Regions from separate parts of the Homo sapiens genome. Here regions 1 and 2 are each reported to be linked to region 3. The links are microRNA targets in miRTarBase. Many come from high-throughput screens and were not tested one by one. Region 3 holds a microRNA gene; each other region holds the end of a gene's coding sequence.

Region 1 (4,086 bases), not on the chromosome of region 3:
CAGGAGCAAGTCTCCTGCCTCAGCCTCCTGAGTAGCAGGGACTACAGGCACTCACCACCACGCCCAGCTAATTTTTGTATTTTTAGTAGAGACGGGGTTTCATCGTGTTGGCCAGGATGGTCTCAATCTCCTGACCTCGTGATCCGCCCGCCTTGGCTTCCCAAAGTGCTGGGATTACAGGCGTGAGCCAACGCACCAGGCCAGAGACCCTGTCCTTTAATAAAAATAAAGATAGCATTTCTGGCGTGTCTTCAGAAATTGCCGTGTGGCCAGCATAAGGGGGGGCAGCATCCTGGGCCACGTCTCCCACCCCCTCAGGCCGGGTGTCCACCGGGAAGTCCCCCTTCACCCGCTCCAAGACCTTGCCTGGCATTTGAGTATGGAACCTTCTCAGATTTTGCCCACAGGGCCCGGGGAGAAGCAAATCCTCACCATGTTAGGAGGTTTGGGGAAACTGAGGCCCCGGGAGCAGAAACCTGAGGCTGCAGAGGGCCAGGGACTTGTCCCCAGCTGCCTGGGGCTTCTAGGCAGAGGCTGGAAGTATGTCCGGGCTCTCACTCTGGCCCAGAGGGCTCAAGGGTAAATCCCTTGGTTCCTCTCTCTCTTTCCCACCCAGATCCGGACGCTGCGGCTGAAGATCTTGGCAGACGCAGCAGCTGAGGGGGTCCCGGTGCGTGGGGCCCGGAACCAGCTGCGCATGTACCTGACCATGGCGGTGGCGGCGGCGCAGCCTATGCTCATGTACTGGCTCACCTTCCACCTGGTGCGGTGAGCGCGCCCGCTGAACCTCCCGCTGCTGCTGCTGCTGCTGGGGGCCACTGTGGCCGCCGAACTCATCTCCTGCCTGCAGGCCCCAAGGTCCACCCTGTCTGGCCACAGGCACCGCCTCCATCCCATGTCCCGCCCAGCCCCGCCCCCAACCCAAGGTGCTGAGAGATCTCCAGCTGCACAGGCCACCGCCCCAGGGCGTGGCCGCTGTTACAGAAACAATAAACCCTGATGGGCATGGCGTGGACAGCCTCTCCTTGGCCTCGCGCACGAATGGGCGGGCCCAGCGCTGGGCAGGGGGCAGGGAGCTGGGGACGGGCCAGAGTAGGCACCACGCTGACCAGTCGCAGAAGGCAGAGAGGAAGGTTTAATGAGCCCTGTCCAGGGCCCTTCAGTGGGGAGCCTCCTTCTTCTTGCCCTTCTCCTTCTTGCCCTTCTCCTTCTTCTTCACTTTGGGCTTCTTGGCCTTGCCCGGGATGCTCTCGTGCTGCTTGGAGCCAGCAGCGTGGGACTGTGGGGCCGAGGGCAGGGATGGGAGAGAAGAGATGGTTCTGGGCTGGAAGCGAGACAGGGGGACCACTCCCCGCACCCTCCCCGCCAGCCCCAGTGCGGGGACGCCTCTCTGGGGTGCAGGGCACGTGCTTGGGGACGCTGGCGAGAGCCCCTTACCTTCACATCCGTGTCCGAATCGCTGGAGCTGCTGCTGGAGTCGGAAGAGCTGTGGTGTCCTTGCTGGATGGAGGTGCGGCAGTGAGGCGGCGCCCCTTACCCAGCCCCCTGAAGTTGGAGGCCTAAGGCAGGACCCTGGGGTCAGGGGCAACCCCAGCCTTCCCGCCCCTCCGCAGCCGGTGATGAGGCGACTTACCTTTGGACCCGGACCTGCCCCTGCCTCCGACCGGCCCTGAACTTTGTGGGGACTGAGCTTGGGATCTCCCCCGTGGCCCGCCCCCACACCGGGCTTCTGGGAGGTGGGCTCCAGGGCTGTGGAGAGAAGTTGGGTGGTTGGTGCAGGCAGCTTCTGGGCTTGAGTCCGGCCCCCTGCACCTCCAGTCCACACTCCCCAGGAGCTCACCTGCTCCCAGGTCGAACTCCATGGCGGTAAGAGAAGTTGGGTCCTAAGGCCAAGGGCGCCTGGGCCCTGCAGAGGAGCGGAGCAGGGGGAGGAGCGCTGAGACCTGCCCGTTGGAGGAATGCTGAGACGCCCCACCCAACCTCTGTCCTGGTCCTCAGCCCTGACTCATTGCCCGGCACCACCCAGGATTTCCTCTGTGAGAAGTGGGGGAGATGGACAGGTGACTGCTTCCGCCAGCCTTGGTGCCTCAGGGGAGGCCGACTGAGGGGGGCTCTGTGGATGGCATTCGGGGAGCTACAGGTTTCCCCCAAAAGCTCAGATGCTCGTTCTTGAAGAGGGAGGTGCTGCCCCTGCCTTCCTGCGTACCGCGACAATACAGCTTCCTCCGCGGCGCTTTAACACGCAGGGCGCTGCTGCCAGGGGCGTCCCGTGTTCTAACTCGCTCCCACAGCCCCTCCGGCTTGGTGAGCAGCGTCTGAGGGGTGAGGGGCATAGACTTGGAGCCAGCCTGCTGCACTAGATGCCAGCTGTGTCACTTAGCAGCAAGGTGACCTCAGCAAAGTTGTTTTACCTCTGTGCCTCAGTTTCCTCATCTGTAAATAACAGCTACCCATGGGATTGATGTGAAAGTCAGAGGAGTTAATTTCCTAGAATGGTGTCTGGCATGAAGTACTGATAATGTGTTGGTTTTTTAAAAAATAAAAGGTAGGTGTTTTAGGCCAGTCATGGTGGCTCACGCCTGTAATCCCAGCTGCTCCGGAGGCTGAGGCACGAGAATCACTTGAACCTGGGAGGCAGAGGTTTCGGTGAGCCAAGATCACACCACTGCACTCCAGCCTGGGCGACACAGTGAGACTCCGTCTCAACAAAGAAAAAAATATATAGATATAAAAGATAAGTGTCAGGCCGGGCATGGTGGCTCACGCCCAGCACTTTGGGAGGCCGAGGCAGGTGGATCACCTGAGGTCAGGAGTTGGAGACCAGCCTGGCCAACATGGTGAAACCCTGTCTCTACTAAAAATACAAAATTTAGCCAGCCATGGTGGCAGGTGCCTGCAATCCCAGCTACTTGGGAGGCTGACCCAGGATAATCACTTGAACCCGGGAGGCAGAGGTTGCAGTGAGCCGAGATTGCGCCATTGCACTCCAGCCTGGGTGATGGAGCGAGGCTCCATCTCAAAAAAAAAAAAAAAAAAAAAAAAAAAAAAAGTGTCTTAATCAGTGTGGGCTGCTGTAACAAATATAGAGAGGGTGGCTTCAACAGGAAACAGTTCTCACGGTCCTGGAGGCTGGAAGTCTGAGATAGGGGTGTTGGTAGATCCAGTGTCAGGAGTGCCGCTTCCTGGCTCGTTGACAGCCACCTTCTCCCTTCCTCCCGGCATGGCCCAGAGCAAGATCATCTCATGTTGTGTCCCTTTCTATAAGGGCACAAATCCCATTAATAAGGGCTCCACCCACATCACCTGATGACCTCCCAGAGGTCCTACCTCCAAATACCATCACTCAGCTTCAGCACAGGAGTTTGGGGAAGACACAAACATTCAACCCCTACTGTTCCAACCCCTGCTTCACAGATGAGAAAACTGAGGGAGTAGGTAAGAAGACGAGGGGCAAACATATAGCATGGGCCAGGTGAAGTGGTTCATGCCTGTAATCCTAGCACTTTGGGAGGGAAGCAAGGCAGGAGGATCACTTGGGCCCAAGAGTTTGAAATCAGCCTGGGCAACATACTGAGACCATCTCTACATAAAATTAAAACTTAGCCAGGCATGGTGGCACTCGCCTGTAGTTCCAGCTACTTGAGAGGCTGAGGCGGGAGGATCACTTGAGCCTGGGAAGTCCAGGCTGCAGTAAGCTGTGATTGAGCCACTGCACTCCAGCCTGGGTGACGAAGCAAGACCCTGTCTCAAAACACACAGGCTGAGCACAGTGGCTCACACCTGTAATTCCCAGCACTTTGGGAGGCTGAGGCAGGCGGATCACCTGAGGTTAGGAGTTTGAGACCAGCCTAGCCAACATGGTCAAACCCCGTCTCTACTAAAAAAAATACAAAAATTAGCCAGGCATGGTGGCGTACGCCTGTAATCCCAGCTACTTGGGAGGCTGAGGCAGGAGAATTGCTTGAACCCGGGGGGTGGAGGTTGCAGTGAGCCAAGATCACACTGCTGCACTCCAGCCTGGGCGACAGAGCAAGAATCCATCTCAAAAAAAAAAAAAAAAAAAAAAAAAGCTAGGGGTACAGAGGT
Region 2 (4,086 bases), not on the chromosome of region 3:
ATTAGCCGGGCGTGGTGGCGGGTGCCTGTAGTCCCAGCTACTCGGGAGGCTGAGGCAGGAGAATGGTGTGAACTTGGGAGCGGAGCTTGCAGTGAGCCGAGATCGCACCACTGCACTCCATCCTGGGGGACAGAGAGAGACTCTGTCTCAAAAAAAAAAGACTCCAAGGGAAAGCTGCCTGGGTCGTGACCTGGCACGTCCAAGTCGCTGCTTAGGCTTGCAAGGGGGTCCAGACCAGGCTGTGGATGGGAAATGGGAGGCTGGGGGAGGATGGAGGCTGAGCAGTGGCTGGATGTTGGGGTGCCCTGTTGAGGGGCAGCTGGCAGCAGCCACGGACACAGGGGTGGGTGCAAAGACACTGAGTTTCTGTTCCAGGAGGAAGGGGGGCCAGCTGGCAGAGGAGAGATCACCCTGGGCAATTTGGTGGTGCCTGGGGTGCACACTTCCCCAGAGGCAGCAGGAGGAGGAGCTGGATACACCCTTCCCTGGGCTTGGAGGAGAGCACGTTCCCTCCCAGCTCCCACCTGGCATCCAGGAGGGCCCGGCCTGGGGTCAGGGCACATGGGGCCCTCCTGCCCTGGGACTGGGCAGCTCCCTGGGGCATTCCCAGCCAGCAGCATCAGGAAGGTTACAGGAGACCCAGACATGCTGCTCCCTAGAGAGGGCTCCTGACAAAGATTTTTTGTGTGGTCAAACTTTAGTTAACTTCCTGAATCTTCTGGTAGGCCCATTGGCCCACTTCCTTGTAAAATGCAGTTTTAGCAAAGAATCTGGCTAAGTCAGTTTAGCAACAAACCTTCATCCTGGAGATCTGATTGGGGTCCTCATGCTTCACCACCCTATGGGTCTGTCTGATTGCCCTGCCTGTCTCCAGCTAGAATCCAGTTAGATGGGTTTCATCAGAATCCCCCAACCCCTGATGTTCCTCAGTCATTTTCCATCCACTGAGCCCACCCTGCTCCTTGGCACCCATGGCAAGCCCTGTTGCATGGTCCCTGTACCTGTAGTGCTGGTCCTGAATAAAGCCTTCCTCACTCAGCTGTAACAAGTGTCACGGGACCATCTTTTCTTTTCTTTTTTCTTTTTTTTTTTTTGAGAGGGAGTCTCGCTCTGTCGCCCAGGCTGGAGTGCAGTGGTGTCATCTCGGCTCACTGCAACCTCTGACTCCCAGGTTCAAGGCGATTCTCCTGCCTCAGCCTCCCGAGTAGCTAGGACTACAGTTGCTTGCCACCTCACCCAGCTTTTTTTTTTTTTTTTTTGTAGTTTTAGTATTAATGGGGTTTCACCTTGTTAGCCAGAATAGTCTCCATCTCCTGACCTCGTGATCCGCTCACCTCGTCCTCCCAAAGTGCTGGGATGACAGGCGTGAGCCACCGCGCCCGGCCTGAACCACCGCACCTGGCCTGAACCACCGCACCTGGCCAGAATCATCTTTTAACAGCTTCCAAACTTGGAGGTCAAACAAGGACTTTCTGGGGAAGCAAGTGGCAGGCAGCAGCTAGGCGTGGGCTGCGCATCCAGCGGATTGAGTGTGGGCGGGACCGCCAGCAACCAGGCAGAGGGGCTGTTCTCTGGGTTGGGGTCAGGAACCTCTTCTGGCCTCAGCCCAGGTTGGCAGACATTTCCCTGCAGGGATCCGGGTCCAGGACTCAGGAGGAGGGACAGTCCCACGGGGGTGCTGGGGGGCAGGAATTCCTGGGTGGGCCGAGGTAAGGGCAGCACAGGGTGACCTGGGGCCCTGGGCCCGGTGGAGCTGAGGAGAGGGACAGGCCTGTGGTCGGGGGTCCTAGGTGGGAGGGAGAGCAGAGGGCAGATGCTTTGCGGGTGGAAGAACCACCCTGGGGGGCGGGAGACCCTGAAGGCGCAGGTTTGTGTTTAGATGGAGGTTGCGCTGGCTGGACGGCCTAGGGAAAATGGGTCTGACTGGATGGAGCTGAGTGAGAATGGTGGGAGGCCCTGCAGCCGCCGTGGAGAGAACATGCGCGGGGGAAAGCCCCGGTCCTCCGGCTGGCGAAATGGACCTCTGGAAGGAATGGCCACACGGTGTGAAATCACTGGTGTTTATTGGCTGTGATTCCATCCGGAGAGAACACACGCAGGGGCCCCGACATGCAGGAGGAGGCGCAGGCGCAGGACAGACGGACAGAGGACACCACGGTCTAAGCTAAGCTCGCGGCCCGGGGCGCCATGCGCTGGGAACGGGGTGCGCAGGTTCTACGAGAGGACGCCCTGTCTGCTCAGAGCTGGCTTTGTAAGGTGTGAAAACAGGAGTTTTTAAAAGACACGACCCGGGAGAAGTCAGTGAGAGGGCACAGGGCGAGCAGGACGGACAGCGACGTCCCCGCGGGCCGCGTCGCTGGGGCGCAGAGGGGCGCGGTGGTCTCTGCCCGGAGGGGCGTCGGTCGTTAGTATTGCAGTCTAACGTTATGGCTTCTCTAAAGCTATGTAAGGTCATGAAGGTCAATGCCAAGCCACGCCCTGGCCCGAAACACGTGGAGACTTGATGCATTTTTGATGTGGACGAAAGGGCCCGGGGGCGAGGCGGCGCCTGTCAAGATAAAACTCATTAAATGCAAAGACCTCATTTACCTGAGATTCAACAAATTGTGATGCAAATTAAACATGAATGGAGGAGAAACAGGGGCTCGGATGCCGCCCCGCAGGGCCACCAGGTGGATTAGGCCACACACGCGCCAGCTGCGCGCAGGGAACCCCGCAGGCCCCACCCGAGGAGCTGCCCACGGAGGAGGTGCTGGGCAGGGGCGCAGGGTCTCCAGCGTCCGGTGCCTCGGGCCTCTGCGGCTCCTGTGGAGGGTGCAGTGTTCAATGGCCGAGGGCAGGGGTCCTCCCCAGGGAGAAGCAGCAGCCGCGTGGGCGGAGAGGCTAGGAGGCCGGGCGGGGGGCGAGGACTTGGGAAGAGCGGGGTGACGGGGGTGGGGGCTGGGCGTCCCCCAAACCTATTGCTTTGTTTCCTTTAGTTTAGAAGTGAACACGGCCGTGGCGTTCGTAAGAAGCAAAACCTTCCAGAGAGGAGAGGAAAGGACGCGGACAGAGACGGATGGACAGGGGCGCGAGGGGGCCAGGCCGGGGGGCGGAGAGCGGCCGCGTGCGGACGCAAATACTCACGGCGGAGCGATCCGAACCCCGGAGTCCGCGTGCAGGAGGGGGACCCAGGCCCCGCCGCCCTCGCCCCGCCCGCAGCCCCCCGTCTGCTATGGCTGTGCTCCTGAGTGCGGGCCCGACAGGCGCCCACCGCCGCGAACGCGCGCACAGGGGTGGTCGCGGGGCTGCCCTTCGGCGGCCCTGGCCTCGGGCGCTGCTGGGTGGGCGGTAAACAGCAAGAGAAAGGGGCGTCCCAGGCGATGGGGCTCCAGCCACCCGCGGGCAGAGGAGCACGGGGCGGACTGGGGGGGTCCTGGGGGCGCGCGCCCCTTGCCGGGTGAGGGAGGCGGCGGGCGCGGGCAGGGCGGGCCTGGGGCTATGGCTTATATCGGCGTGGGGGCTGCGCTCTGCTCGTCCCTCAGGGGCCTCCGCGGAGGATCTGTAGGGGGAGGGGCGGGGGCTCCGCGGGGCCGCTGTCCCGCGCGCGGCTACTTCTTGAGCATGTCCTGCAGCGGCCCGGGCAGGTACTTGATGACGGTGTCCAGGATGCTCTCGTCCTCCTCCTCCACCTCGTCCCCGCAGCCCGGCGGGATGGCCTTCTTGGGCCGCGTCAAGCTCCCCTCGGAGTTGGCCTCCATGGCGGCCTGGGCCTCGGCCTCGCGCTCCTCCTTCTTCTTGATGCCGTACTGCGGGGGAGGCGGGGGTCAGGGCGGGGGTCCCGGCGGCTCCCGGGCGGGCCGCAGCCTCCCTGCGCCAGGGACTGGCCCAGGAACCCCCGAAGGCGTGGGTGCGGCCCCCTACCCCACCAGGCACACAAGGACCCCAGAAGGAGAAGAGACCCCACCCCGGGGGGTCCCTGGAGGAATGGGAAGCCCCCACGGAGAATGGGGGCCAGGAGCTGACATGGGGGGGAGCAGGGAGGGGGAGGCTCCCATCTTCCTTGAGAGGAGAGAGGGCTGTGGCCCCACCTCTGGCTCCAAACCC
Region 3 (4,163 bases):
CATTTGTTTCCAGAGAATGGAAGGAAACTGGGAGGGAGAATTCTACAGACTCCAGGTGGGAAATACTGTCATACTTACTGTAGGTACCACAGCTATGTGTGTGCAATGCATCTATTATGGAATTGTGTTCCCAAAAATATATGTTGGAGTCCTCATCCCCGCTACCTCAGAATGTGACCTTATTTGGAAACAGGATTTTGTCAGAGGTAATCAAATTAAAATGTAGTTATTAGGGTGGTCCTTAGTCCAATAAGAATCGTGTTCTTATAAAAGGAGAAAATTTGGACACAGAGACACACACAGAGGGAAGACGATAGGACAAGATACAGGGAAAGGAAAGCAGGTTCAAGCTGAGGAGAAAGACCTGGAATAGGTCCTTTCCTCACAGCCCTCAGAAGGAATTAAGACTGCTGACATCTTGATCTAGGACTTCTGGCCTCCAGATCTGTGACACAATACACATCTGCTGTTTAGGTTACTTAGTCTGTGGTATATTACTATGGCAGCTGTAGTAAACTAATACAGAAACCACGAACGACTGTATTTGAGGCGCAAGTCCCTACCTAATTTGCTCATAAATTGCCTTCTCTGAAATCCCGTGTCCTCAAAGGGAAATCACGATTGCATTAAATGGGGGAAGCTCTCTTATAGTACCACCTCTAAGAACACATAATTTTATTGACTATATATTATGCACTGGTACTAAGGGCTTGGCCTGCCTCACCTCCTTTATCACCTCCATTTTACCCAGGAGGAAACAGACACAGGTGCACTTTGTCTATCATAGATAATAATTCTTGCTGAATCCAGGCATGCCCCTGTCCACTATGTCTGCACTAAACTAGAAATACACTCTCATGTTTACACCTTTTTTTTTTTGTCTTTTTCCCCTTTTGTGGAGAACAGGGTCTCGCTATATTGCCCAGGCAGTTCTTAAACTTCTGGGCTCAAACTATTCCCCCAACTCCCACTTCTGCCTCCCTAAGTACTGGGATTACAGGTGTGGGCCACTGCGCCCAGCACACCCTCACGTTTTTAAAGTCTTGAAATTCTCCTATTTCCGCTTCTCAAAAGGTCCAATCCTTTTCCTTAAACGTGAATATACCACATAAACGAACACGAAATAGAAACAGGGACAAAAAAGTATTTTTTTGACGATGGCAAACGGGAAAAAAAAAAAAGAAAGCTGTTTAGGTGGCATTTGAAAAGTTAAAAAAGAAAGAAAACTCAGAGCAGCCCAAAAGACAGATGATACCTAAGAAGGCACAACCAGCAAGACATGTTGACTGTTAGTATTATTTCAGCATCCTCCTTGAGCAGCTTGGCTTTGCTCTGGGACAATGCACCAGCCTGGGATGCTCAGAGATGCAGGCACGGAGGTTGTGCAGCCTCTCCGCACACTGCGCATGCGCGGCTGCCGGTTCAAGTCGCGGTCCAGGACCGCAAGGAGGCGGGCAAGCGAAACTGAGAAAAACCCACCCACGGTCCAGGGACTGGGGGCTCGGGCGAACCCACCCAGGGACCTCCTGACCAAGGCCATTTGTCTGCAACCTGATGGCTAGAAGTGATACCACCCTGAGCATCTTCAATCCCCTTTCCCCACTCTACAGCCCCTTGTACTGTCCCTCCTTCCTCATTCACACCCCTGATCCAAACTCAAGCACTGAATTTGTCCCCAGACGAGGGCCTCGGCTCTGCGCGGCCGCTGGCTGAGTAGCTTGGCCCGATTCCGGGTGTGAAGTGAGGAGGAATTGATGCGGGTAAACATACAGCGCCGGCCCGCGCCGCATCCCGGGTCTGCAGCTACAGCTGCGGCGAAAGCCCAAGGTGCGCGTGCGCGGAGCGCCACTAGGCAGCCCAGGACGCGCGGGCTCGGAGCCGGGCGAGGGGCCGCGGAAGGCGCGTGCGCAGAGCGACCCCGGGCGCGCGAGAAGGTCCTCAGTGCGCGTGCGCGGGGCGGGCGGGTGCGCGCGCACTTCCTCCTCGCCCCCACCCAGACCCAGAAGGCGCCACCATGGCGGCGCCCCCGCAGCCCGTCACCCACCTCATCTTTGACATGGACGGACTTCTTCTGGGTGGGTAGTGTGCAGCCGCCGCCTCCAGTAAGGGCGGTCTTGTGTGGGCGTGGGGACGGTCGGCGCGGGGTACGTCACGGCCTGGGGGCCGCGGCGGGGCGGTGTTCATGCAGGGACGCTCGGGCTCCCGCGCGCTCTGCCCCCGGCTGGCCCCGAAGTCGGGCGGCGGCCAGGAGCGCCCGCGGGCCCATGTCCGGGCTGGCGGGCGCGCGTGGCCGCGGCGTCTACGCGGCCCCAGCACCCGCTTCCGGTCGGCGGCCCGCGCGTGGGGCCGGAGCACGTGGGAGCAGTCCCTGGGGTCCACCGGGCGGGCGCGCGGCTCCGCGTCCTCTCCTCAGAGCGAGGCGCGGCGGGACCTCCGCGCTCTCTTTTCGGTTACGCATGCGTGCGACCTTGAGCGGTGCCCAGCCTCAGCTTCCCCGTCTGCAAAGTAGCCTGGAGGATACTTGCCTGCCTGCTCCAAGGTTGCTGCTGTGGGCGCACTTTGATGGTAGCATCCTGCATGGTAGCGGTTCTCTACCTGGCGGTTTTGCAGCCCTGAGGGCATCTGGCAATGGCGATGTCAGGAGACATTTTGGCTGTCACAGCTGGCGAGGAGTGATGGGGTCACTGGCATCTAGTGGAGTCCAGACCAGTGATACTGTTAAACTTCCCGCAGTGCACAGGAGTGCCCTATGCAACCATAAGGAATTATCCCGCGCCGTCAACAGTGTAGAGGCACAGAAGGTCCGTCAAGTGGCCTGGCTGCCTAGGGTGACCAGCACCGGGGACATCACCTGTGGGCTACTTGTAAATGTAGAAGCTGGGGCCCCACCCTACCCCTGCCCAATCAGAATCTGCATTTTAAGCGCGTGAACGTTTGAGAACAGCTGCTCTATCAATCCGAGGCATTAAGAAACCCTTGGCAGTGTACTAAGGTAGTCAGTCTTAGCACATGTGAACTTCACCAGCCAAGAGGAATTCAAGTAGAATTCAAAGAATAAAACCCTGTTTTTAACTCAAGACAGAACTATGCTGAGCTCTACCGAAAGCCTTGACACAGTTAACACTATGACACATAATCACCAGGAGGCTTCATATATCTATAAACATGTCTGCATACTCTTTGTAGACAGCTGACCTGCTTGGTTACGTATATCATTCCTTCATTTCAAAACCCTGCAAGTTAGGAGGAAGTATTTGCATGTCACTAATTAAAAAAAAAAAAAAAAAAAAAACCCTGCAGCTCAGAGAGGTAAAGCTACTTGCCCAAGGTCACACAGCTAATAAGCCAAGCTGAGAAACGATTCTGGATTGATCCAGTTCTAAATATAAATGATGTTGAGCTCATCTTAAATTGTGAATGTGACCTTGTTTCTGCTCATCATATTGCTGGGTAATTCCCTAGCAGTGTTTCCTTTTAAAAAGGCATGCAGAAACCATTCTCTTCATTTTATGAACACAGAGGTGTAAACTGATGAATTCCAAAGGAAAAAAAAAATCCCCGTAGAGGTCACTAATTGGAGCCAACGGTGTATGCAGCTACTAAATTTGAAATGACTCAATTTCAGAAAGCTTGTGGGATACATAGGTATAGTTTGTAGACATGAATTTTCCTACTCCGGTGGTCAAAAAGTTAAATTGTCAAATAAATTTCTTATCCTCTAATAAAGGTCCAGAGAACCTGTTCTGGGAGTCTCATGAATTTTAATACCAAACAAGATGTCTCATTAAAATTAAATTTATTAAACTTCTAAATGAGCTTGGTGCCTAATTCTGATTCTAGATTCACACATAGCCATGCCCTGAAGTGATGAATGTGACTTAAATGGCATTACAAGCATTGACCTCACATTGTTACCCAATCCTCTGATCTAGTCAGATAACCAAGAATTAGTGCTATTTGGAAAAATAAGCCCTGCTTCTTTTTATTCCCCCCCCTCATTTTCTGCCCATTTCCTCCTTTCCTGCCCTACCTCTTCTTTGAGGTGGTAAGGCCTTGCAAAACTTTCTTGGAAATATACCTTTGTTTATCCCATTCTTTCACCAAATGTGTAAATATAAAACACAGCTTTCCAAGATGTGCCACTTTAATTTAATCTACCAGAT

What was found. Region 3 holds the annotated microRNA hsa-miR-4767 (CGCGGGCGCUCCUGGCCGCCGCC, at 2,237-2,259, opposite strand). A microRNA usually pairs through its seed, bases 2 to 8, with sites in the 3' UTR of a target mRNA and lowers its output. Matches are read on the target gene's strand: a 7mer-m8 pairs with bases 2 to 8, a 7mer-A1 pairs with bases 2 to 7 and ends in A, and an 8mer does both.
Region 1: the mRNA of YIF1B is a reported target of hsa-miR-4767. Seed matches in the 3' UTR shown: 7mer-m8 at 776-782.
Region 2: miRTarBase lists CPLX1 as a target of hsa-miR-4767. Seed matches in the 3' UTR shown: 7mer-m8 at 3,452-3,458 and 7mer-A1 at 3,232-3,238.

The regions. Positions count from the first base shown.
Region 1 is chr19:38,302,038-38,306,123 of GRCh38, reverse strand. YIF1B (Yip1 interacting factor homolog B, membrane trafficking protein) reads left to right here. Exons shown (of 8, transcript NM_001039672.3): 8 at 617-2,566. The coding sequence ends at 772. It overlaps C19orf33 (chromosome 19 open reading frame 33), which reads right to left and starts at 1,873. Exons shown (of 4, transcript NM_033520.3): 1 at 1,841-1,873; 2 at 1,634-1,749; 3 at 1,438-1,500; 4 at 1,118-1,279. The coding sequence starts at 1,862. The coding sequence ends at 1,160. RefSeq lists enhancers at 538-1,275, 1,276-2,013, 2,014-2,751.
Region 2 is chr4:782,911-786,996 of GRCh38, forward strand. CPLX1 (complexin 1) reads right to left here. Exons shown (of 4, transcript NM_006651.4): 4 at 2,047-3,788. The coding sequence ends at 3,591. Among named protein-coding and RNA genes, the nearest start is that of PCGF3-AS1, 3.1 kb to the left of the region's middle. RefSeq lists enhancers at 1-206, 2,201-3,072.
Region 3 is chrX:7,145,965-7,150,127 of GRCh38, reverse strand. MIR4767 (microRNA 4767) reads right to left here and starts at 2,268; the gene lies at 2,191-2,268. It overlaps PUDP (pseudouridine 5'-phosphatase), which reads left to right and starts at 1,975. Exons shown (of 4, transcript NM_012080.5): 1 at 1,975-2,075. The coding sequence starts at 2,015. It overlaps STS (steroid sulfatase), which reads right to left and starts at 2,416. Exons shown (of 11, transcript NM_001320752.2): 1 at 2,045-2,416. RefSeq lists an enhancer at 1,496-1,545 and a silencer at 1,736-2,455.